Linked DNA regions of Homo sapiens. The protein of the gene in region 2 interacts with the protein of the main gene of each other region in a pairwise test. Each region holds a gene or a part of one and is shown on either strand. Other genes may lie near its edges. The genes, in order: ACY1 and NUDT1.

What was found.
Region 1: the proteins of NUDT1 (region 2) and ACY1 interact in binary tests that used the Homo sapiens proteins (3 or more experiments, as listed by UniProt).

The regions. Positions count from the first base shown.
Region 1 is NC_000003.12:51,986,284-51,989,738, forward strand, and holds the end of ACY1 (aminoacylase-1), read left to right. Parts: coding exon 1-48; intron 49-131; coding exon 132-221; intron 222-321; coding exon 322-378; intron 379-704; coding exon 705-778; intron 779-863; coding exon 864-913; intron 914-1,025; coding exon 1,026-1,170; intron 1,171-1,272; coding exon 1,273-1,341; intron 1,342-2,240; coding exon 2,241-2,320; intron 2,321-2,482; coding exon 2,483-2,543; intron 2,544-2,627; coding exon 2,628-2,792; 3' UTR 2,793-2,914; downstream 2,915-3,455. Other genes in the region: ABHD14A-ACY1 readthrough (NMD candidate), read left to right, coding at 1-48, 132-221, 322-378, 705-778, 864-913, 1,026-1,170, 1,273-1,341, 2,241-2,320 and 2 more. UniProt on the Homo sapiens protein: Catalyzes the hydrolysis of N-acetylated amino acids to acetate and free amino acids.
Region 2 is NC_000007.14:2,244,934-2,251,645, reverse strand, and holds the end of NUDT1 (oxidized purine nucleoside triphosphate hydrolase), read right to left. Parts: intron 2,336-6,712; exon of another isoform or gene 1,954-2,335; intron 1,790-1,953; coding exon 1,644-1,789; intron 1,005-1,643; coding exon of another isoform or gene 949-1,004; exon of another isoform or gene 911-948; intron 818-910; coding exon 645-817; 3' UTR 501-644; downstream 1-500. UniProt on the Homo sapiens protein: Oxidized purine nucleoside triphosphate hydrolase which is a prominent sanitizer of the oxidized nucleotide pool. Catalyzes the hydrolysis of 2-oxo-dATP (2-hydroxy-dATP) into 2-oxo-dAMP.

The DNA.
Region 1 (3,455 bases), on a different chromosome or scaffold from region 2:
TGGAGGGCCACCGGTTCCCCAGAACCATCCACATGACCTTTGTGCCTGGTAGGAGTGGCTCAGATACCTTTGGGAAAGGGGAGGGTGGGGCGGGGCAGCCTCCTCATCTCACGTCCCTGCTGCTTTTACAGATGAGGAGGTTGGGGGTCACCAAGGCATGGAGCTGTTCGTGCAGCGGCCTGAGTTCCACGCCCTGAGGGCAGGCTTTGCCCTGGATGAGGGTGAGCAGGTTGGCAAGCCAATGAGCAGCCAGGCAGGGAGTAGGAGGCTGCTAGTGGGGACTGAGCTGCTCCACCCTCTGAACCCCCTTTCCCTCCTCAGGCATAGCCAATCCCACTGATGCCTTCACTGTCTTTTATAGTGAGCGGAGTCCCTGGTGTAAGTATGAGCTTGGAGGGAGGGCTCACTCTACAGGCGGGAGGCTAGGCCAGAAAGGGCACGGTCCTATGCAGGGTTGCACAGCAAAGTTGAGGCCTGAGAAGGCCTTGAACCCAGGGCCTCTACCTCCCAGCTCTTTCCTATCTGAGCTTCTCTGAGGGCAAGCCCTGAATGGGCAGAAACCAGCTGTATGCTACGGGCCCTGAGTGGGGACAGGACCCTGCCAGAGGAGCCTGGAATGAGGGGGAGACCTGGGCCCACCCCAGGCTGATTGTGTCTCCAGCCCCTCAGGCTGAAGACACTGCCTTCCCCCTACACCTCCCCAGGGGTGCGGGTTACCAGCACTGGGAGGCCAGGCCATGCCTCACGCTTCATGGAGGACACAGCAGCAGAGAAGCTGGTACGTGGCACCCCAGGAGGGAGTCTGGGAGTTCAGGAGGCTCTATCCTGAGGCCACTGTCCCATTTAACCTCATATTCTCATAGCACAAGGTTGTAAACTCCATCCTGGCATTCCGGGAGAAGGAATGGCAGAGGTGAGGCAGCCTGGGAGGCAGTGGGGTGGCTCTGGGAGGCGGTACCACAGAGGATAGAGTCTGAGCCACCTCTTTTATCTGTTGCTGCCGCTACCCTGCCCCCACACCACAGGCTGCAGTCAAACCCCCACCTGAAAGAGGGGTCCGTGACCTCCGTGAACCTGACTAAGCTAGAGGGTGGCGTGGCCTATAACGTGATACCTGCCACCATGAGCGCCAGCTTTGACTTCCGTGTGGCACCGGATGTGGACTTCAAGGTGCCACCTCCACCTGGGTTTGGAGGAGGGATCCTGGGTCCTCAGTCTTGTCCTAGAGGCCTCTGGAAAGCCTGAAGGATCAGCTCGTCTCCCTTCTCTTAGGCTTTTGAGGAGCAGCTGCAGAGCTGGTGCCAGGCAGCTGGCGAGGGGGTCACCCTAGAGTTTGCTCAGGTATGGACTTGGGACATGTGATGGGAGAGTGTGGGAGCCGGGGGAGACCCAAGTGTGCAACAGTGGAGTGTGTGCTTGGTGTGTCTGCATATGTCTGGGCATTTCTTTATCTGTGACAGACACATTTTATTCCAACAAGCATTCATTGTAGAGGCCACTGTGGGTGCTGGGGAATGCTGTGGGGAGTAAAATTAGGCACAGTTCATGCCCTTGTATGGTGAAACGGGGAGATATAAATCAAACATTTATGTGATATTACTTTTTTCTGAGAGAATCTCACTCCGTCACCCAGGCTGCAGTGCAGTGGCACAATCTCGGCTCACCTCCGCCTCCCGGGTTCAAGCAATTCTTGTGCCTCAGCCTCCAGAGTAGTTGGGATTACAGGCACCTGCCACCACGCCCAGCTAATTTTTGCATTTTTAGTAGAGACAGTGTTTCACCATGTTGGCCAGGCTTGTCTCGAACTCCTGGCCTCAAGTGATCCACCCACCTTGGCCTCGCAAAATGCTGGGATTACAGGCATGAGCCACTGCGCCCAGCCGTACTTTCATATAACCCATGTGGTACAGGAAAGGGTGGCCCCTTGCACTCTGAAAACCTGTAACTGGAGTATCCAACTAGTCTGAGAGGTCTGGGGGAGCCATCTTGAGGAAGGGGCACTTGGGCTAGGATCTGAAGGATGGACAGGAGGTAAGTAGACGGAGGGTGGGAAGGTCCCAGACCTAGGACATTTGAGGGGCTGAAAGAGGACCTGTGGCTGGACTGGCTACCCAGATGTCTGGGTAGGTGAAGGAGTGGGGGTGGGGAGGTGTTATGTACTAGGCACAGCCCACTCTATGGGAAATAGGGCAAGATGCCCAGGCCCATGTCCTGATCCTGCCATTCTTCCTGTCCCTCAGAAGTGGATGCACCCCCAAGTGACACCTACTGATGACTCAAACCCTTGGTGGGCAGCTTTTAGCCGGGTCTGCAAGGATATGTGAGCACGCTGGCCAGCTCTCCTCACAGCCCAGCCCCCTACTCCTCTCCTTCCTGCTGCCCCCTCCCTTCTCCCTCCTTCTCCCACCTCTTTCCCACCTTCCTTTGCCCCTTCAATTCTTCGCTTTCTCCCTCCCCATTCATCAGGCTCTTTCTCCTACAGGAACCTCACTCTGGAGCCTGAGATCATGCCTGCTGCCACTGACAACCGCTATATCCGCGCGGTGAGCCACTTGCATATAGTGCCTGGGCAGTGGACTGGGCCTGAGTGCTGGCTTTTCCCTAACGGCTCTTCCTCACCCCTGCAGGTGGGGGTCCCAGCTCTAGGCTTCTCACCCATGAACCGCACACCTGTGCTGCTGCACGACCACGATGAACGGCTGCATGAGGCTGTGTTCCTCCGTGGGGTGGACATATATACACGCCTGCTGCCTGCCCTTGCCAGTGTGCCTGCCCTGCCCAGTGACAGCTGAGCCCTGGAACTCCTAAACCTTTGCCCCTGGGGCTTCCATCCCAACCAGTGCCAAGGACCTCCTCTTCCCCCTTCCAAATAATAAAGTCTATGGACAGGGCTGTCTCTGAAGTACTAACACAAGGACACTCGTGGAGCAAGAATTTTCCTTTTCCTGGGGACATGTTACCATCTCCATTTCACAGATGAGGAAACTGAGCCTGGCTGTTAGCACTTCCCCACTACCCCACACTGCTCTGTGCCCCTTGACACAGCACACCCATTCAGTACCATCCAGCCATGTCTGTGCCTAGCAAGAAAGGGCCACAGTTCCTATTTGAGTGGCCACCATACTTAGTTCTGACCTATCAGGGATTCCATTCCCATTAAAGAGGGATACTAAGGACCTCAGGAACCACTCCCATCTTCCTGGGTGTACATCTGGGATCCTGAGACAGTACCAGAATAGCACCAGCTGGGCCCCTGCTAGATGAGGGGCAGGCAGAGGGCCAACGGTGACTGCTGGCTCCTGTCAAAACCTGTACACCCTTGTGTTGGCAGCAGGGGCCACAGAGGGGCAGGGTCCCTGGTAGACTAGGTCAGTTCATCTTAGAGGCCTCAGCACCCTGGATCTGTGTGTGCAGAGGCCCAGGAACTGGGCTTTCATCTCAGCCTTGCTAGGACC
Region 2 (6,712 bases):
CACATCCCCAGCTTGTGGCACTGAGCATGTGTGTCTCTGCCCTGGGCCAGCTGCCCACCTCGGGGACAGAGTCTCCATCCTCTCCCACCTCTGTGCAGCAGTGCGGGCTGAAGCCCAGCACATCTGGTAGCTTCCTGTGGACGGGACCTGGCAGGCTGTGCTGGTGTCTGGAGAAGAACGTTTGAAAGGTTAGAGACCGGCCGGGTGCAGTGGCTCACGCCTGGAATCCCAGCACTTTGGGAGGCTGAGGCAGGTGGATCACCTGAGGTCAGGAGTTCAAGACCAGCCTGGTCAACATGGTGAAACCCCATCTCTACTAAACAGACAAATATTAGTTGGGTGTGGCAATGTGCGCCTGTAATCCCACCTCTTCGGGAGGCTGAGATGGGAGGATCGCTTGAACCTGGGAGGCGGAGGTTGACGTGAGCCGAGATCGTGCCATTGCACTCCAGCCTGGGCAACAGAGAGAGACTCCATCTCCAAAAAAAAAAAAAAAAAACCACCGCTAGATAGCTTTATTTTCCCTTCCATCCAGTTAATTCCAGATGAAACCCGGCTCTGCGCCACTCAATGCCCCCAGGTGAAGATGGTTTGCGGCTGTTCAGCAGCCACGTCTCCTGCCCAGGGGCTGCCCTGGGCTCCCGCTAGACCGTGTCCACCTCGCGGAGTGTGTAGTCCAGGATGGTGTCCTGACCCTGGAACTTGAAGTACCCGTGGAATTTCTTCTTCTGAAGCAGGAGTGGAAACCAGTAGCTGTCGTCGGGCCACATGTCCTTGAAGGGGATCTGATCCAGCTGGAACCAGCATGGGCGCATTTCTGTACCAATGGGGGAAGAGGAGGCACTGAGGTGCAACCCAAACTTCATGCTTAAAAAACATGTTTTTTTTGGCCGGGCGCGGTGGCTCACGCCTGTAATCCCAGCACTTTGGGAGGCCGAGGCGGGAGGATCACGAGGTCAGGAGATCGAGACCATCCTGGCTAACACGGTGAAACCCCGTCTCTACTAAAAATACAAAAAAATTAGCCGGGCGTGGTGGCGGGCGCCTGTAGTCCCAGCTACTTGGGAGGCTGAGGCAGGAGAATGGTGTGAACCTGGGAGGTGGAGCTTGCAGTGAGCCGAGATTGCGCCATTGCCCTCCAGCCTGGGCGACAGAGCGAGACTTCGTCTCAAAACAACAACAGCAACAACAACAAAACCATGTTTTTTTGTAGAGATGGGGTCTCACTGTGTTGCCCAGACTGGTCTTGAACTCCTGGGCTCAACGATCCTCCTGCCTCGGCCTCCCACAGTCCACAGTGCTGGGATTACAGGGGTGAGCCACTGCGTCTGGCCAGCCCAAACGTACACTGACTCTCTGAGGAGTTCACTGAGTGATCGTGAGGAACCTGACGATCGTTTATATTTCATCCTCATTACCGTGTTTCTCATTTTAGGGTGGGCGCAGAGCAGGGGCAGGTACGCTACTGGAGCCTCGGTGCAGAGACCACGGCTCATGGGCCCCACGCTGGCACTGTGGGGTGGAGGGGGACGCAGGCTGCCCGGTCCCTGGCACTCAGAGATGGTTTGGGCGGATGGCCTTTCTCCCAGCCAGGAGATGGGACCCGCATAGTGGGGAGGGGGAGCAGGCCCTGTGAGACTCACCGTCGCTCTCCACGGGGGTCCCCTGGATGCTGTCTGTGCAGAAGACATGCACGTCCATGAGCTCAGGCTCGCCCACGAACTCAAACACGATCTGGCCCACCTTGTGCAGGGCGTCCACTGTCAGACCGCTCTCCTCCTGCAGCTCCCTGCGGGCAGAGGTGGGCAGGGGAGGGAGGCCGTCAGGGCATGGTGCCATGCCCACACGATGGCAGGGAGGAGGAGCTGGGCATCTACACACAGCCCAGGGAGCCACCAGGGTGGATGGGAGACCCAGGAGGATGTCCCCTAGAATGCATTATCTGGTCCCGACCTGGCTGAGCTTCAGAATCAACTTGAACTTTGAAGACACTGATTTTGGTTGAGAGGCTCTGGGGAGGGGCCCGGAGATGGTGTGGAGCCTCTGGTGGGAGGAACGCAGTTCTAGCCCAGTGCCCTCTGTGTACCAGTGACAGCCCAGGCCCAGTGGAGTCCAGCCACTTGTCCACCGTCTCGAGACCCGCACGTGGCAGGGTTGGGACTGACCCCACTTCCTTCATTCCCGGTTACTTGCTTTTCCGCGGCTGAGCATCAGAGCCCATGCAGCGGTAGTTACGACCGCCGGGGCCCTGGGACGCTTGCTCTGGGAACCTGGGCCCTATACTCTGGGCCTGTCTGCCCAAAGAAATGTCTTTCCAGCCTGGTGCCTCTTCTCTGAGAACACAGGATGAAACCACAGGCTTCTATGATCTGTTTCCTGAAGGAGGAGCTCTGGTTTTAACTCTGGTCCCCAGGCTGACCACACGGGACACGTGGCCTGGGCCTCTTCCTGCGCCTTCTCGGGACATGCTCCCCACAGCTGTGCCTGGAGGAGGTGTAAGGGGCTGACTTCACCACGGGATGCCCAAGTGCTGCTGCGCCTGGGAACAAGCCCTTCCCTGCTTCGTGGCACACAGAGCCAGGTTTCCCCGAAGTAGTCTAACGCTGTTGCTAATTTAAAAATTACATATTTGTTATAGACAACCAGGAAACAAAACGCCATAAACTCATCACCCAGGAATGCTACCATTTCAGTGTTTTTCCTTTGGCTCTTTCTCCTCTGTTTTTCCCTTAAGAAATGCAAACATTAACCCTTAATAGCTTAAAGTTAAAAAATAAAAATGCAAACAGGTTGGGTGCAGGGTGGCTCATGCCTGTAATCCCAGCATTTTTGGAGGCCAAGGTGGGAGGATTGATTGCTTGAGCTCCGGAGTTTGAGACCAGCTTGGGCAATATGGCAAAACCCTGTTTCTACAAAAAGGACAGAAATTAGCTGGGCATGGTGGCACTCGCCTGTAGTCCCAGCTCCTCAGGAGACTGAGATGGGAGGAATGCTTGAGCCCAGGAGTTGGAGGCTGCAGTGAGCTGGGATTACTCCACTGCACTCCAGCCTGGGCAACCGAGCTAGACCCTGTCTTAAAAAAAAAAAAAAAAAAAAAAGCAAACATCATACACACTTTATACCTCGGGCTTTCCACGCAAGAAAGGAGGAGTGCATGACATTCCACACCTCAAGGAACCCAGCCGCCTTCTCAACTCCTGTTTGGTATGGAAGAATAAAACGTTCCAACTTCGGGTTATGGTGGAAACCCGTGTTGGGCACAGCGGTGCTGCTGACCTCCCGTTCTGAGCGTTTGCTTGCTGTGCTCAGTCGGGTTCTTGCTCAGTCCCTCAGCAGACACTTCTGAACACCCACTCTGTGCTGGGACCCTGGGGATGCACGGGCTGCAGCCGCTGGGCACCTCAGTCTCCTCCTCTTACCATGCCCGGCTAATTTTTCTGTGTGTGTGTTTTTCTGTAGAGACAGGGTCTTGCTATGTTGCCCAGGCTGGTCCTGAACTCCTGGGCTCAAGCGATCCTTCTGCTTTGGCCTCCCAAAGTGCTGGGATTTCAGGTGTGAGCCACCATGCCTGGTCTAAATGGTCTGATTTAAGCGATGCCTCCTCAGCTTAAACTGCAGGGACTGGAGAGGAAACGGACCTGGAATCAGCATTTATTCATACAGATGGCTAATTAAAGTTGGGCTTGAGCTACAAAGTGAACGTGTGCTTCTACTTGGGTATAAATGGCTCCCCAGTTAGATGCAATAGAAGTGCTCAGTGGGGCCTCACCCGCCTCTTGGCGGCCGGCTGTTGCTCGTCTTAAAAAGCGTCACCTCCCAGTGGGATATTGTGACTGATTTTAGTTAATCTTCCCTAGCACATGGCAGCGTAGGAAGCATCAAGAATCCGCCGGGAGACAGAGCTGAAGCTCCATTTCCCAGGCAGGGAGCGCCAGGCAGGCGAAGATGACGCTGTTCAGTTCTGCCCAAGTGTCTGCTCTGTCCATGGCACTCGGTTCCCCAGGCGGAACACGGGGAACAGGGTGAGAAATACATGAAACAAAAACACAGGGTGGTGCAGCGTCCGTGGCGTGGGGAGGTGGGAGTCGGAGGTTCCGGCGGGCCTGCTTCCCATCGCTGCTCCTGTGTCCCCGGCCTCGCTAGTCTTTGGGGACCAGGGATGCTGTCTAGAAAGGTCGGCTCACACTGTGCGCCTGAAGCCCAAATCTGCACACCCCCACAATTCAGTACTCCCTACGTGCCTGTCCCCTGCCCCACAGAGGAGGGTCTGAGTCCAGCCCTCTGGACTGGGGTTAGGCGCTCAGGCCTGCCCCCTGCAGGCAAGCGGGGAGGGTGCCTAAACCGGCTCTTGGCCTGGGAGTTAGGGCCCATCTTGGGGTCCTCCTGATAGAATAGGACTGGGTATTGCGTGGATAAAGCAGGAACCAGCCTCCCCAGAGACCGGGCTGCCGACGCTCCTCCCTGCCTCCCGCTCCTGAGCAGCACGGGCCTGGGGTTGCCCCAGGAGCAAATCCATTCAGACTCGCAGGTACTGAAGCCCAGGGCCGTGCTGGTGGCCTGTGGCTGATGGTACGTCATCCCCTGAGGGCGAGGCTGTTTGCTGCTGGGTTCCCGGGGCCCTGGGACCCCTAAGCACCAGCCTGTCTGGCTCCAGTGTCCCCCATTCCTCATGCTTGCAGATGCTCCCCAACGAAGGATTTTTTTCTTTCTTTCTTTAAGACAGGGTCTCGGCTGGGCACGGTGGCTCACGCCTGTAATCACAGCACTTTGGGAAGCCGAGGCGGGTGGATCCCGTGAGGTCAGGTGTTCAAGACCAGCCTGGCCAACATGGTGAAACCCCCGTCTCCAGGTTACACCCGAGGATGGAAGTCACAGGCTTCCGGCTCTGTGCCTCAGTTCCCCCCCTCAAACCCTGGTCTGACAGCAAGCCACCACTGTATTCAGCTTTGAGGGTCTGGAGTGATGGTCCCTCTGTTTGTGTAATATTTACAGAGGGTAGGAGGAAAGTTCCTTCGACCGTGACAAAGTTCAGAAGAAAATAAAGCAGGGCTGCCGAGGGGGCCTGTGCTTTGCTTGTCACCAGCAGGACGAGAAGCGGAAATCCAGCCACCTGGAGTTCCTCCATCCAGCCTCCTCAGCACCGCTGCCTGCTCCACTCACACCCACCACTTCTCTGCACAGCTGGCGCTCCTCCAGCCCTCTGTGCTTCTGCAAATGTCTCCTTCCTCCCTCCTTCCACACTCTCCCAGCCAACGTCAGGCCCTCAGAGCATTTTCCTGGTGCCCAGTTATTCTCCCTTCCTTTCTCCTGGAGGCCCCTGGCCACGAGGTATGGACCAGACCTCCTTCTGCAGGTCTCCTGAACCCGGCAGCCAGATGACACGAGAGCTCCACAGAGGCAGGGACTGACCTGTTCCTCCTCATGTCCCCAGGCCCCACACAGAGCAGCGCTACAGAAATCCATGAGCTGATGGGCAGTCTTAGCAGATCAAAGACAAAGGGCTGGGCAGAGAACCCCCGGGGCCACCTTTCCTGTTTCCTGTGCTGTGGTCGCTCTGCACACACTCCTGGCAGGGACACGCTGTATGCCCGACTCACACCCAGTGGTCCTCCTCCCCAGCTGCGGCCCCCAGCACAGAGCCTGTCGCACTGGCACCTGCCACAGTGACTGATCGAACGTGTCCGTGTGGCTGCGGTCTGGGGTCCCAAGCCTTGGAGGGGAAGCACACACAGGGCTCTCCAAACTGAGGGTTGGGACCCATGTACCCCGGGAAATCGGCTTAGTGGATTGCAATTGAAAAAAAAAAAAGGGTCAAGCCAGTGGCCCACACCTGCAATCTCAGCACTCTGGGAGGCCCGGGAGGGAGGATCGCTTGAGCCTGGGAGTTAATGAGACACCATCTCTACAAAGAATTAAAAAACGAACTGAGCGTGGTGGCATGTGCCTGTGGTCCCAGCTGTTCGTGAGGCTGAGGCAGGAGGATCGTTTGAGCCCAAGAGTTTGAGGCTGCAGTGAGCCAAGAGTGTGCCATGGGTGAGATCCCACCTCTGGAGAAAAAAAGAGAAATGAATCGGAAAAGTAGAGCCCCCTTTTATGTAATAAGGGCGGCTACTGCAACTTACTTTAGCTGTACCTGCACACCTGAGTGTGTACACTCTATCAGAGTACAAAACGTATTTCTTACTGCAGGTTGTGATGAAAAAATTGGAAAGCCACTAGGCTGCAGCGTCCTGGCTTTCCTCCGTGCCAGGACCCTCTTTACTCTGTAGTTCTCCTCTCCAGGCAAGCTGGCCTACCTTTCTCAGAACAAAAACACGAACGGGGGCTAACGTCTGTGCAGCGATGTTTACACAGATGATCTCATTTACCCTGTGAGGGTTGAGGGGCGTCTGGAGGACTGTGTGATCTTGGGTAAACGGCTCAACCTCTCTGGGCTTCAGTTCCTTCCTAGGTGAAGCTGGCTGTGTTGAGGATGCAGTGAGGCTTTGTGCACAGCGAGTGTGAGATGAAAGCGATCATCAGCTCCACTGAACAGACAGAGGAACCAAGTGACTGACGAGCCCTTCGGCAACAGTGAGGGTGCTGGGAGGGTTCAATTCAAGCTGCTGCACAGAGGCTTCCAGATACGCCCTGCAGCCCCCAGCACCACCGCACCACAACAGCTAACACGCACTCAGCACGCACCGCACACCGCGCACCGTTCTAAGTCCTT